Regions from separate parts of the Homo sapiens genome. Here all the other regions are linked to region 3. Evidence: fine-mapped expression QTL. A gene starts in region 3. Each other region holds a variant in brackets. All regions are shown on one strand. Distances are from middle to middle. Region 1 overlaps CRYZ (crystallin zeta). Region 2 overlaps FPGT-TNNI3K (FPGT-TNNI3K readthrough). Region 3 holds the start of CRYZ (crystallin zeta).

Evidence for each region. PIP is the estimated chance that this variant, and not a neighbour inherited with it, causes the effect. A credible set is the group of variants that fine-mapping cannot tell apart.
Region 1: its variant is the best candidate, but not a certain one, in a credible set for the expression of CRYZ in whole blood (INTERVAL, PIP 0.85).
Region 2: its variant is the best candidate, but not a certain one, in a credible set for the expression of CRYZ in uterus (GTEx, PIP 0.89).

What each region holds. Positions count from the first base shown.
Region 1 is chr1:74,702,400-74,706,645 of GRCh38, forward strand. CRYZ (crystallin zeta) reads right to left here. Exons shown (of 9, transcript NM_001889.4): 9 at 3,087-4,058. The coding sequence ends at 3,897. Among named protein-coding and RNA genes, the nearest start is that of CRYZ, 29 kb to the right of the region's middle. The variant A/C (reference allele first, on the strand shown) is at 2,060.
Region 2 is chr1:74,458,996-74,463,242 of GRCh38, forward strand. All of the region lies in intron 22 of FPGT-TNNI3K (FPGT-TNNI3K readthrough), which reads left to right. All of the region lies in intron 20 of TNNI3K (TNNI3 interacting kinase), which reads left to right. Among named protein-coding and RNA genes, the nearest start is that of LRRC53, 51 kb to the right of the region's middle. The variant ACCAGCT/A (reference allele first, on the strand shown) is at 2,074.
Region 3 is chr1:74,730,642-74,734,885 of GRCh38, forward strand. It overlaps CRYZ (crystallin zeta), which reads right to left and starts at 2,409. Exons shown (of 9, transcript NM_001889.4): 1 at 2,315-2,409. It overlaps TYW3 (tRNA-yW synthesizing protein 3 homolog), which reads left to right and starts at 2,511. Exons shown (of 6, transcript NM_138467.3): 1 at 2,511-2,777. The coding sequence starts at 2,604. RefSeq lists enhancers at 1,206-1,495, 2,091-2,801, 2,356-2,645, 3,026-3,125.

The sequences.
Region 1 (4,246 bases), 28 kb before region 3:
CTCCAAATAATTAATTTGCCTAGGATTCCATAGCTTGTCAATAACAGTGCTAGGCTTTAAATCCAGTTTCTTTGCCTTCAGAACCCATGCTCTTGACAACTATACCAGAGATGTACTTGTGGCCTTCCTCCCTGCCCATAAGAGAGGTCAGTTTCTTCCAGATCAATATCTGGAGTGAGATAGCCTCTTCAATATTTTGCGTCAATTCCAGTGCCTGCTGGACTAAGGTACGGGCATCTTCTGCTCCAATTTTTACATTATCTGGCTTTGCTAGAGTCAGACAAATGTTGTTTGCACAAGTCTTGTATTTCTCCAGCAATTCCACTCTCAATCCATTTGCAAGATTTTCTCTGTGGTGACATCTGAGGGTGCAAAGTTCCACTTCCTCCTTAATCTATAGCTGTACTGAAAACTGAAACCTGTAGTCTCTAAAATGCATGTGAAAGCAAGGAGCTGAAGGATACTGTGGGGTGGACCTAGACCTCAATTCTAGCTAGTTCAGATGATTTCTGGTTAAAAAAAAAAAAAAAGTGTGTGTGTGTGTGTGTGTGTGTGTGTGTGTGTGCGGCGGGGGACTTGGTTTTCCAGGCAGTGTACCTCCTGTGTCCCAAGTTAGAGGCAGTGATTGAGTTGTGGCTTTTTCCTGCCTACTCTGTAGATAATTTGGTTCAACGAATCAAATGATTGACACTTATGTTAGAAATTCCCAGTGGATTTTGTCACATGGTTTTCTCTTCACTGTCTTGTACTACTGGAGTTTTGTGGGTATTTTTACATGAAGTTGGGAATGAATAAATCAGGGACTGCGATCTGTAGTTATATTTAGCACATTTAATGAACATCCATATCACATAATTTTGGGATCAGTATTAGACTCACTTTTAACGACACACATGGAGTGTCTCCATGTATGACTTAGGGGTCGACATAGACCAAAGTGAACTTACGTTTCTTTCTATAACATTTCCTAGGCCTTGTCCTGGGATGTAGGAAGTTCCCACAGTATAAGCCCTATGGATTAGCAAAATTGTCATATGACAATTTTTAAATGACTTTTTAAAGCACTGTACTAAAAAAATGAAAGCATTAGAAATGATTGAGCATTGAGCTGAGGTGTTTTTCTGTTTGCGAGATACGGTCAAGGAGGCGCAAAGAGGTAGGTCAAAGTGACCTGACAGGTTTTGCTGTTCTTGGAAATCGTGCAGAAAAAGAAAGCTCTTTATACCACAAATTGGGGAAGCCCCTTGGCACACATACAATTTCTTGTCTCAACAGGCGAGTTACGGACATTAAAAAAATGCTAGTTTTTTTTTTCCCCCTTTCAGAAGCATCCTATTTTTTACCTCTATGGTTAAAGCTACTATGGATGGAGACAGCTAACAAATGCATCAAATGTATGAAATGTGTGACTGCAAATCCCAAGCTACACTAAGTGCCCTTCCTCTGTGTCTGTCACCCTTGTGATGGTTAGTTTTGTGTCAACATAGTCAACATGTGCCACTTACATGTTTATACAAAATTATCAGTTGACTTTAAGGAGATGTCCCTCAATAATGCAGGTGGGCCTCATCCAATCAGTTGAAAGCCTTAAGAACAAAAACTAAGGTTTCACAGAGAAAGAATTCTGCAAGACTGCAACAATAGAAACTAGTTGTATTTCTAGCCTGCTGGCCTGCCCTACAGATTTTAACTTGCCAGTCCCCATAATTGCATGAGCAAATTCTTTCAAATGCATCTCTTAATATATTTTATTGCTTGTTTGTCTGGAGAACCCTGTATGACACTCCCTTATATTCTAAAATGTTTTACTTGGGTCTCATCCTTACTCAACTGTAAGCTCAAGGATATGCACTCTGTCTTATATATCTCTGTATTTTCAAAATCCAACAGGGTGCTTTCTCAGACTCTAGGTACTCAATAAATACTTGTTGAACTAATGGATGCACAGAATAATCTGTTAGAGAAGCCAGAGGTACAGTGAGCAAGGAAAGCCAGAGGCCTGGAAAGTTAAATTTATGGTTTTATATCGACAGCCCACAAAAAAGTCAGCTGAATTTGA[A/C]TCTCCTAGTCATGTGACCTTTGGTATGTTGATTCACCTTTTTGGGCTCAGGGTGCTGACCAATTTGGTCTCTAATACATTACATGACTAGGTCACACAAGTCAAAGCAACCAGGAACAGAAATCCAAAAGACTGAGTTAAACAATGTTTGTTTATTATACAGGTTATTCTCTACTTTTCATCAAGAATGGGCACTGAAGACTATGTAGTAGCCCTAAGGCCACAGGCACCAACCAAGTAGTGAATGCAGTTGGCTGAAAGTTGGGACAAGACTAAAACCACAGAGATTTATGCAGAGAACATACCCAGTGCTACATCATAAATATGGTAGTTAATGCACACAGTTTGGCTAGTTTTGGCTTCAAAATTAATTAAACTGTATCAATGTATTTTGAAGTGTTAAGTCATCTGTATGCTTTAGCTCCTTCTATAGATGAGGCAAATATACAAACAGATTAAACTGACTTTTACAGAATAATTATTCTTTTACCTTGTTTACATGGAAAGGAATCCTCCATTTTAGGATGCACATAAAATGCCAGCCTATGTTGATGACATTGCCTTAACACTTTTTTTTTAAGTAATTTTACAGGGTAGTTAACCTGTAAAAGAAACAGTGGATAAACTTGAAAATGCTAATAGCAAAAAACACTTCAGCCATGGCACATACAACCAGAAGCCAATGATATCCTTCAACTATAGAAATTAGCGGTGTTTTCTGTTTATTCCTGAAGCAGGATTCCATATTCAAGCCAGAAATTGTCATTCAACAGAAAAAATCAGGTCAAAACAATCAATCACATAATGTAGCAAGACAAAAGTATGTGCTTATGTGAAGAAAAACAAAAACAACAAATAACCGAACTTTTATTTTCTTGAATATAATATTGATGGCAAGATTGCTAAGAGGTCATCCCTGTATTTAGTTTAGATAAAGGCTTCCAGCATAGAACACTGTTAAGAAGTAACTGTCAGGAGCTATGCAGAAGTGATGAGAGGCAAATAATATAAAAACTAGAAAAGCAGGTTTTAATTTTCTATAGACTTTATTACACATTATTATGTTACGAGACAAATGCAGATAATTCTTAATTTATCAAATTTGTGAGCTTAATTAACAAAAATATTTGACCCTCACCAGAAAAACAGATAACTCTAAATCTACTCTGAAAATCTAATCAATTGCGAAGTATTACCTATTTGGAGACTATGTATTATATCAAAGATAAAGCTACTATTCTCACAGAACATATGGGGTCATTGGCAGCCAACCAATAATGAAGTAAATATTCTAATATTTGGGAAAATACTGAGAAAACTAATAAATTGTCCTGGATATTATTTATTCTTGCCTTTACAAAAGACTTACACATCCAAATGAGATTAGTTTAGAATAGAGGTTTTTAGTTCAGAAAATGTTCAAAGTCCAATACAGTCATGGCTAATCAGAGACTAGAGAACCTTTATAAAGGTAAGTAGGCTTGAAAACCCTTGGAAACTGAGCAGTCTTATTTTGAACTAGCATGTTTTAATCAAAGGTATGGAATTAATCAAATATCAATTAAGAATTACTGGAATGCACACTCATGCCAAATGACAACTAACATGTTATTTCCTACTATGATGACTCTTTGATTTGAGACAGATGGCATAAAAAAATATTGCTAGCTATACAATAAATTTTACTCTTCTGCTTCTGCTCTCTAAAGAAAAATCTTATTTTTTCACATAAGAAGCTCATGGAATCGAATGTTAATTAAAGAAAAGATAGGGTAAGTACAACTGGGGGAAAGACAGTACCTCTAATTACATAGGAAATCCATGAAAGAATTAATCATCATAAGAGAAGAATCATTTTTCCAGTAGCCCCACTACCATGAATGATATTTTCATGAGCCTCGGCCACCTTCTCCAATGGATATTGAGAACCTATCACAGGTTTCAACCAGCCAATTTCCATTCCAGCTTGAAGGGCTGCTGCATATTGCTGAAATTCCTCCTAAGAAAAGGAAAAACAAATTTCTTTTTGTAGTGAACCGTATGATTTAATTTTCAGAAGCATTAAAAACACTTCAGAATCTAAGTGTTATACCATGAAGAGTCTCTTACAAATGTGTGACTTTTGTCAACTTGTCCAGAACTATAGAAAAAGTAGTTATCTACAGGGTAACCATAAATCCCATCTGC
Region 2 (4,247 bases), 270 kb before region 3:
GAGAACATGTGTTATTTGGTTTTCTGGTCCTGCATTAATTCCCCTTGGATAATGACCTCTACTGTCCACAATAGCAAAGACATGGAATCAACTTAGGTGCACATCAACAGAGGATTGGATAAAGAAAATGTGGTACATACACACCATAGAATACTATATGGCCATAAAAAGAACAAAATAATGTCCATTGCAGCAACATGGATGTAGCTGGAGGCCATTATCCTAAGGGAAATAATGCATACCTTTTGAATACCTATTAATAGCCAAGTACTGTGCTAGGCACAGAAGATACAATGGTGAAAAGACACAGTCCCTGACCTCAAGGCATTTATGATCTATATGCACAGGCAGACAAATAAAGAGGCAATTAAGTATAATACATGTTATGATAGTACAGGTTGTTATGGAAGTACATAGGAAGGGTACCCAGGAAAAGTCAATCAAAGATAAGAGCTAAATGACAGTAGATGTTACGAAGGAAAAAGAGGTAGGGGAGAACATTCCAGGCAAAAGGAATCGCATTTTAGAATTAACAACTGAACCATAAAATGCAGTGAAAAAAACTAGGCATTCACATATTTCTTATTTATTCATTTACCAATTTTCATTGAAAAAAATAACACCAGATTATTTTTGGTTTATTATCACTTACATAAAATAGTCAGTACATTTTGACAAATGAATACATGAATGAGGTTATCACATGTTGTGCTGAATGCCTGTTCTGTAGCTTTTCACTGGTCTATCACTTTTGAGAAACAACATACACAATCTCCATTCATGTCTTTTCTTTTCTTGATAAAGTATCGACAAACAAGGGAGAAGTTGAATCCACAAATTGACACCATGGTTATATAGACTCTGCAGCTGACTCACAATACTGGGTTTAACTCTTGTTTTTCAGGATAATGAGAGTGCAAGCTATGCTCTAGAATTATGTTGTTTAATATGAAAGCCACTTACCATGACTATTTAAATTTATATTAAATAAAATTAAACAAATTAAAAACTCAATTTATCAGTCACACTAGCCACATTTTAAGTGCTCTGTAACTTTATGCTATCATATTTAACAACATATAACTTTTTTTTTTTTTTGAGACGGAGTCTTGCTCTGTCGCCCAGGCTGGAGTGCAGTGGCACGATCTCGACTCACTGCAACCTCTGCCTCCCAGGTTGAAGTGATTTTCCTGCCTCGAGTAGCTGGGACTACAGGCGCCAGCCACCACGTCCAGCTAATTTTTTGTGTTTTTAGTAGAGATGCGGTTTCACCGTGTTAGCCAGGATGGTCTCAATCTCCTGACCTCGTGATCTGCCGCCTCGGCCTCCCAAAGTGCTGGGATTACAAGAACATTTTTATCAGTGTAAAAAGTTCTATTGGATACTCCTACTCTAGATCTAGGTTATTATTTCTACTAAACTATTGATAAATATTTCAGGAGACTGTTGAGAAATAATAGTTGCTCAATAAATAGTTATTAATATTTTTAAATTTAGCTTTATTCTCCTTTAATGGCAAAGTCTCATTCTTTAAAGTAGAAACCAACATTTACATAAATCCTCTAACATATTTTTTGTAGCAATCAAGGTAAAAATTTGATTAATGGGCTGACAATCTCCTTCCTGAATCTGTAATACCAGAAAATTTCCCAGATGTTAGTGTAGCATGGCTGCTTAGGCAAGACTGACAAAACAATCTCAAGGTGACAAATTTCAATTTCATGACCCCCTCATGTTACATTGCCCACTTTCTGGTGGAGGCACTAATGAGTAGCATCACTGCCAAGAGTGCTTAAAGCAAAGGGGAGGAGATGCCAAGACTTTGCAGAATCTACTTTGAATAATGAAGAATTAAATATCATTCATCTTAAACTGATTTTCCAGACACACTGCCAAGAAGCAAACAAGTAACTCTATATTTTTGATACCAGAATCTAAAAGAATTTCAAAGGGGGATGGTTGGCACCTGCATCAGAGTTTAACTCATTTTATGACTAGTCCCTCCCCACCCATTAGACTATGCACAACTATTTTAAATGTGCTCACCATACTGGCTTATGTACTTACAGCTAC[ACCAGCT/A]CAACAATATCCAAATGATCATAAGGTAACAAAGTGGAGTTAGAAGATCAGTGATTGCTGAGCACCAGTTTGTTTGCTTATTGATTTACCTCATCCCAGAAATAATTTAAAAATAGTCAAGAGTGGCCCAGCATGGTGCCTCACGCCTGTAATCCCAGCACTTTGGGAGGCCAAGGCAGGAGGATCACGAGGTCAGGAGATCGAGACCATCCTGCTAACACAGTGAAATCCCATCTCTACTAAAAATACAAAAAAATTAGCTGGGGGTGGTGGCATGTGCCTGTAGTCCCAGCTATTTGGGAGGCTGAGGCAGGAGAATCACTTGAACCCAGGAGGCAGAGGCTGCAGTGAGCCCAGATCATGCCACTGCACTCCAGCCTGGGTGACACAGTGAGACTCTGTCTCGAGAAAAAAAAAAAAAAAAAGAGTAACCAGTGAAAGTACTCCAAAATGCCTAATTTTTTGTGACACAGAAGACACATTTAATAAGTAGTGACATATTTGATAAGAACACAATCTAAACAACAAAAAAAATGAGTGGCTATATTTACCTCTGAAATTAGTAACATGTTTTATAAAATGAGAAAACCTAATTCTGGTGCAGATGTATTGATAACCCTCACACACATGCTGTTGAGAGTATAAATTTAGTACAACTGTTAGAATAATTGTTGTACCGAAGTCTTTAAAGTAGTTATGCCTTTGGCACATCATCTTCTCTCCTCAAAATATCATAAATGAATAATCTATGAAATCTGGCAACTCATGTTGAAAAGATATTCTTTGAAGTGTTTACACCCAAATTTGGAAAAACCTAAAATTCGGAAATGATTAAAAACTAAATGCAGAGTCATTAAAATATGTTAACATAAAGTGTTAATAACATGAGAAAATGCTTCATTGCTTAGATTAATGCTTTAATATTTAGAAAAAACAATTACATAATTGTATATTGACATAAGGTCAATGATGTAAAGTATAAGAAATATGTGAAATATTTTAACAATGGTTTCTTCTAAATGATAACATTTATTCCTTCTAATTCTCTTAATTTTTTAAACTTCTACAAGGAAGAAGTATTAATTTACAATTGGCAAAATTAGGTAATCATTCAGAATAATCCATAAAGTGTTGATCAAATCACATTGCATATAATTTCACTAGGCCTACTGAAAGTGTATGGATAAACAGAATTTGATGGGAGTAAATTTTGGTAGAGTAGAGGTAGTAGTTGTGGCTTATATCTCAAAAGTCATTAAGATATAGACAGATGCTTACAATACCACAATCTAAAAGACAGGCAGCAGCAATGTCCTGGAACTTTATCCTCTCACTGATGCAGAGCAGTTTTTGTGAGGAATAGACAGGGCATCATGTGTTGATTACAGAGTATATTTATTATAATGTGTGCTAAAGAGAGCATGGATTTTGAAACAAAAGACTGCACCAAACATTAGTTATATGTAAAATGTTTATAAATTAAAAACTAGCTCCACACATAACAACAACAACAACACCTACTTTGCATGGTGGTTAGGAGGATTAAAGGAGTTTATGTAGTTATCTACCATGATGCCTGATACAAAATGCATTCAGTAAAAGTAGCTACAAGCTTGGTTTCTAAGGGAGTATAGAAATCATTAGTTGCAGAACAGGAAATATTTAGCAATCAGGAATCTACAGTGAAGTTCTAAGAATCACAAAACAGTGATGCAGACTTTGAGATGAGCGATATTCAGAAATCCATGCAGGCAGGCAACACGACAGACTTCAATCAATGAGTATTGTTAGCTAAAATAAAGATGTGAAGTGTCCAACAGAGTTTTAAAAATAATAACTACTTTATAAATATTAAAAATTAAAATCCCAACAACTTTGTAACCAGTAATAGGATTTAAGCTTTAAAAAAATCTACTTTGCTCAAGTGATACAGGTGCTATGAGAAGTGCAAATTTCAGTGGTATTCCATGTTTACTACATACAATATAAGCTCTTTAGCCTGGGATTTATGGCATTATACAGTCTTGTTTAATCTGCCTTTCAATCTTTACTTCTTATAATATCATGTACATACCCTATACTTCAGACAAACAAAACTACTTGCTCCTTGCATATTCCTTCACTCCTTATAAATGCCCTGTACTATTTATTGAGTCTGAAACCAAATG
Region 3 (4,244 bases):
ACAAGAGGTTAAGAGACTTGGTCAGGGTCACACAGAAGCAAAGCTAGAACCCAAGTCCTGTAATTAAATGGTGTTAGCTGATTTTTTTCTTTACCATCCTTTTCATCTCACCCTTTGAGATGCTGGCATATAAGACCCTTTACTTCGTAGAAATAAACTTTACAATAGTGATAGTGAGACAGATTGAGCTAGAAAATGTGAAATCAAACTAACCTGCAGGTAGAATCGCATATTTTATGACTAAGGCATCTGCTTAGAGTTTGAAATTTCTCAAATGCCCACTAAGTCAGGGAATGCAGCAGAAATACAAAGGACATGATTCTATTTTTAAAAATGTATAAAAAAAAATTACTCCCTAGCATCGGATCCTTGTGAACAGGACAGGCCTTTCCATTGCTTGTGCTTTTTAATTAAACTATACTTCAAATAGGCCTTCCTGTTTATCAAATATAAACTTTTAAAAATTAAGAGTCCCTTGGTTTAATTTTTGGTTTAATTTTACCTCTGAAAGGTTGCCAATATGCCTTACAAATCTAGGAAATAGAAAATCTAAAATCCCTCTTCCAACAGTGATCTTTTTCCTGGCTATGCTTGTATCCATTTGATTTAAACGAAAATTAAAGGAATTGGGAAAATGTTAGGAGTATATTTTAACATAGGATGAACAGATCAAGTCACAAAGCCAGAGCAAAGGAACATTATGAGACAAGAGCAAAAGTAAAATTAAATAAGAATTCTGGCAAGAATTTTAAAAACTGAAAACTTAGAAAAAAAATCAATCATTACAAATTGTTCTGCTGCTAATACACAATGACTCATGTAAGCATATGGTTTATTATTAACCCAGAAATGTAAAAAAGGCAAGAATTACAAGTGGTCAGAGAAAGTCTCTTCCTGGCTGTGTGATCTTATCAGGTCACTTCTGTTCACTTGAGATAGGACGGGGTAAGAAGAGGGGAGGAGTTTAATAATTTCGGACTCCTCCAGGTTCCATGATCGTATGGAACAGGGCAGTCTGTTCCCTAATGCTGGAGGAGTAGAGCTTGGAGAGATTTGCTGCTGAACTCGCTGCGCTAACCAGACACGTAATCACAGTGGCTTCAGAGGGACTCGCACAACAATTTCCATTAGCTACGGACAAGCATTCCAAACTTTAGCCTTTAGGTTTAATCATTGACACACCTTCCCTGGTCACTGAGTCTCCTCTAGAAACTCAGTATAAACATCCAACGATGTGTTAACAGGGTGTTTTGTAATTTTCTTTTGAAGATTATTCTAGGTGGTGGGCGTCACAGGGTCAATAAAACTATACATTTCTCTCAAAGACTGCAATCCTGATGGCAAAGCTGGAGGAAGCTCCGGGAAACCTGTAATTGTGGGAATCCAAGACAAAAAATCCCCCACAGCTGGGCTGTGGGAAGGGGCCCTACCTAGGAGAAGAAATCAAATCCCCTACAGCTGGGCTGTGCGAAGGGGCACTACCTAGGAGAAGAAATCCCCTACAGCTGGGCTGTGGGAAGGAGCCCTACCTAGGAGAAATCCCCTACAGCTGACAGGTGGGCTGTGGGAAGGGGCCCTACCTAGGAGAAGAAATCAAATCCCCTACAGCTGGGCTGTGCGAAGGGGCACTACCTAGGAGAAGAAATCCCCCACAGCTGGGCTGTGGGAAGGAGCCCTACCTAGGAGAAATCCCCTACAGCTGACAGGTGGGCTGTGGGAAGGGGCCCTACCTAGGAGAAGAAATCAAATCCCTACAGCTGGGCTGTGCGAAGGGGCCCTACCTAGGAGAAGAAATCCCCTACAGCTGGGCTGTGGGAAGGGGCCCTACCTAGGACAAATCCTCTACAGCTGAGAGCTGGGCTGTGGGAAGGGGCCCTGGACAGACCGCTGGGCGCTGCTGCAGGAATCCCCAAACCCAGGCACTGGCTGCAGGGAAAAATCAAGCGGGTGACTGGCGGGGGGGGGGGGGGGGGGTGCAGCGTGGGGCTGGGGGACAGGGAGTGCGGGGGGCGGAGGCTGGGCAGGGGTAGTGCCAACGGACACCTCATGGTGTGGTAGCCTAAACTCAGAGCCTAAACGCAGGACCAGGGCTAGGAGCCCAGGACCAGAAGGCAAAACTTCCTACCTGATTTATGGATGGGAACTTGCAGCCCCTGGAGGGGAATGGCTTCGGTCTGGAGCTCTACGCACTAGTTCTCTGGGAGGACAGAGGGCAGGAAAGGGGTGCAGCCAAAATCAAACTCGGTTCCACTTGGACGAGCAGTGGGGAGATTCGCTGTCTAAACAACTAAGGAGAGTTTTTAAAACCACTTACCAGAATCTAGAGTGGGAATTAAAATCTGCGTGGGCTTCTTCAGATTCCACAGAAATGAGGACTGCCACACCTTCTCCAACTTTTGCAGGCTCCACCCAGGATGTGCGCCTCGCTCCACCCAGGATGTGCGCCTCTCTCCACCCCTAGGCGAAGGCACTAGAATTTCCCAAATTAAGAACGAAGAGGAAGTTTGGACCTTTTCGGCCACCGCTCGCTTCAATATGGCTGCCCCCAGGGAGAGACGAGGCTACCATGAAGGAGCCGAGCGCAGACCCTGAGTCCGTCACCCATGGATCGCAGCGCGGAGTTCAGGAAATGGAAGGCGCAATGTTTGAGCAAAGCGGACCTCAGCCGGAAGGGCAGTGTTGACGAGGATGTGGTAGAGCTTGTGCAGTTTCTGAACATGCGAGATCAGTTTTTCACCACCAGCTCCTGCGCTGGCCGCATCCTACTCCTTGACCGGGTGAGGCCCCTTTGCGCCTGTCCATCGCCTGCCTTCTAGTGCGAAACTTCAGGAGCCCTGTTCCCATCCAGTGACGACCGGATCCAGCATGTCTGTGTTTGCTCCTCTGAGGGGTGGTCTCTGTTTCTTTATATGTGAAATTTAGGGGATTAGATCAGTGCTTCTAAAAGTTTAACGTGGCTATTAATCAGCTGAGCATCTTTTAAAATACAGATCCCGATTCTTTAAGTGTAGGGTAGGGCCTGATACTGTGCATTTCTAACAAGTGCCCAAATGATGTTGAAACTGCTGACCTGGGAACTATCTTGTGTGGCAAAGTTTAGAAAATTTGATTTTATTATATGAATACTAAGGGAATCTAAAGACTTTGTAGCTTGCTAAGGTATTGAATGCCGGAATCCGCTCATCAACAGCTCTGGCAAATCATTGTTACTGCATGCTTGAACATCACCAGTGTTAAGGAGTTTACTGCCTCCTAGTGAGCCCCTCCATTATTACAACTCTAGTAGTTTTACGCAGAGAAAAGTACGATCGTATATAATTTAGGATGGTTAGACTTTTTTTTTTAACTTTATGATGGGTTTACAGGGGTAGTAAATGCATTTTGACTTACATTTTCCACTTATGACGGATTTATTGGGATGTAACCCCATCATAAATCAAGAAGCAGCTGTACAAGCCATACCTCCTTATTTGCAGGTTCAGTTACCCCAGTCAACAGCAGTCTGAAAATATTAAATGAAAATTCCAGAAATAAACAATTAGTAAGTTTTAAATTGCATGCTGTTCTGAGTAGCGTGATAAAATCTTGAGCCAACCAGCTCCTTCCAGAATGGAAGGTGAATCATCCCTTTGTCCAGAATATTCCACTATATATTCTTGCTGCCCTTTAGCTGCTTGGTAGCCTTCTGGGTTATCAGATCGACTGTGGTGGTATCACAGTGCTTGTGTTCAAGTAACTCTTATTTTACTTAATAATGGCCCCAAAGTACGGGAGTAATGATGCTGGCGATTTGGATCTGCCAACAGTAAGTTTTAAAGTGCTTTTTTGAAGTGAAAAGGTGAAAGTTCTTAAGGAAAGACTTAAGGAAAGAAAAAACAGCATATGCTGAGGTTGCTAAGATCTACGGAAAGAATGAATCTTGTCAGTGAAATTGTGAAGTGAAGAAGGAAAAAGAAATTGATCTGAGGTTTCAGGCATCCACTAGGGGGTCTTGGGACATATCCCCTGAGGATAAGGCTGCTTGGGAGTGATACTGCTTAGATTAAAAACCACGGGCTATGTGACCTTAGGAAAGCTATCTCAACTCTGCCCCTTCCTGTTCTATGAACTGAGGATAATAAAAAGTATCTGCTTTATAGGGATTTTGTGTGGAGAAAATAGGATAATTTTTTTTGAAATATTTGGCTTTGTGCCTGGCCCATGCACTGTAAAAGTTGGCTGTGTACTGATTTTATTCGTAGTAT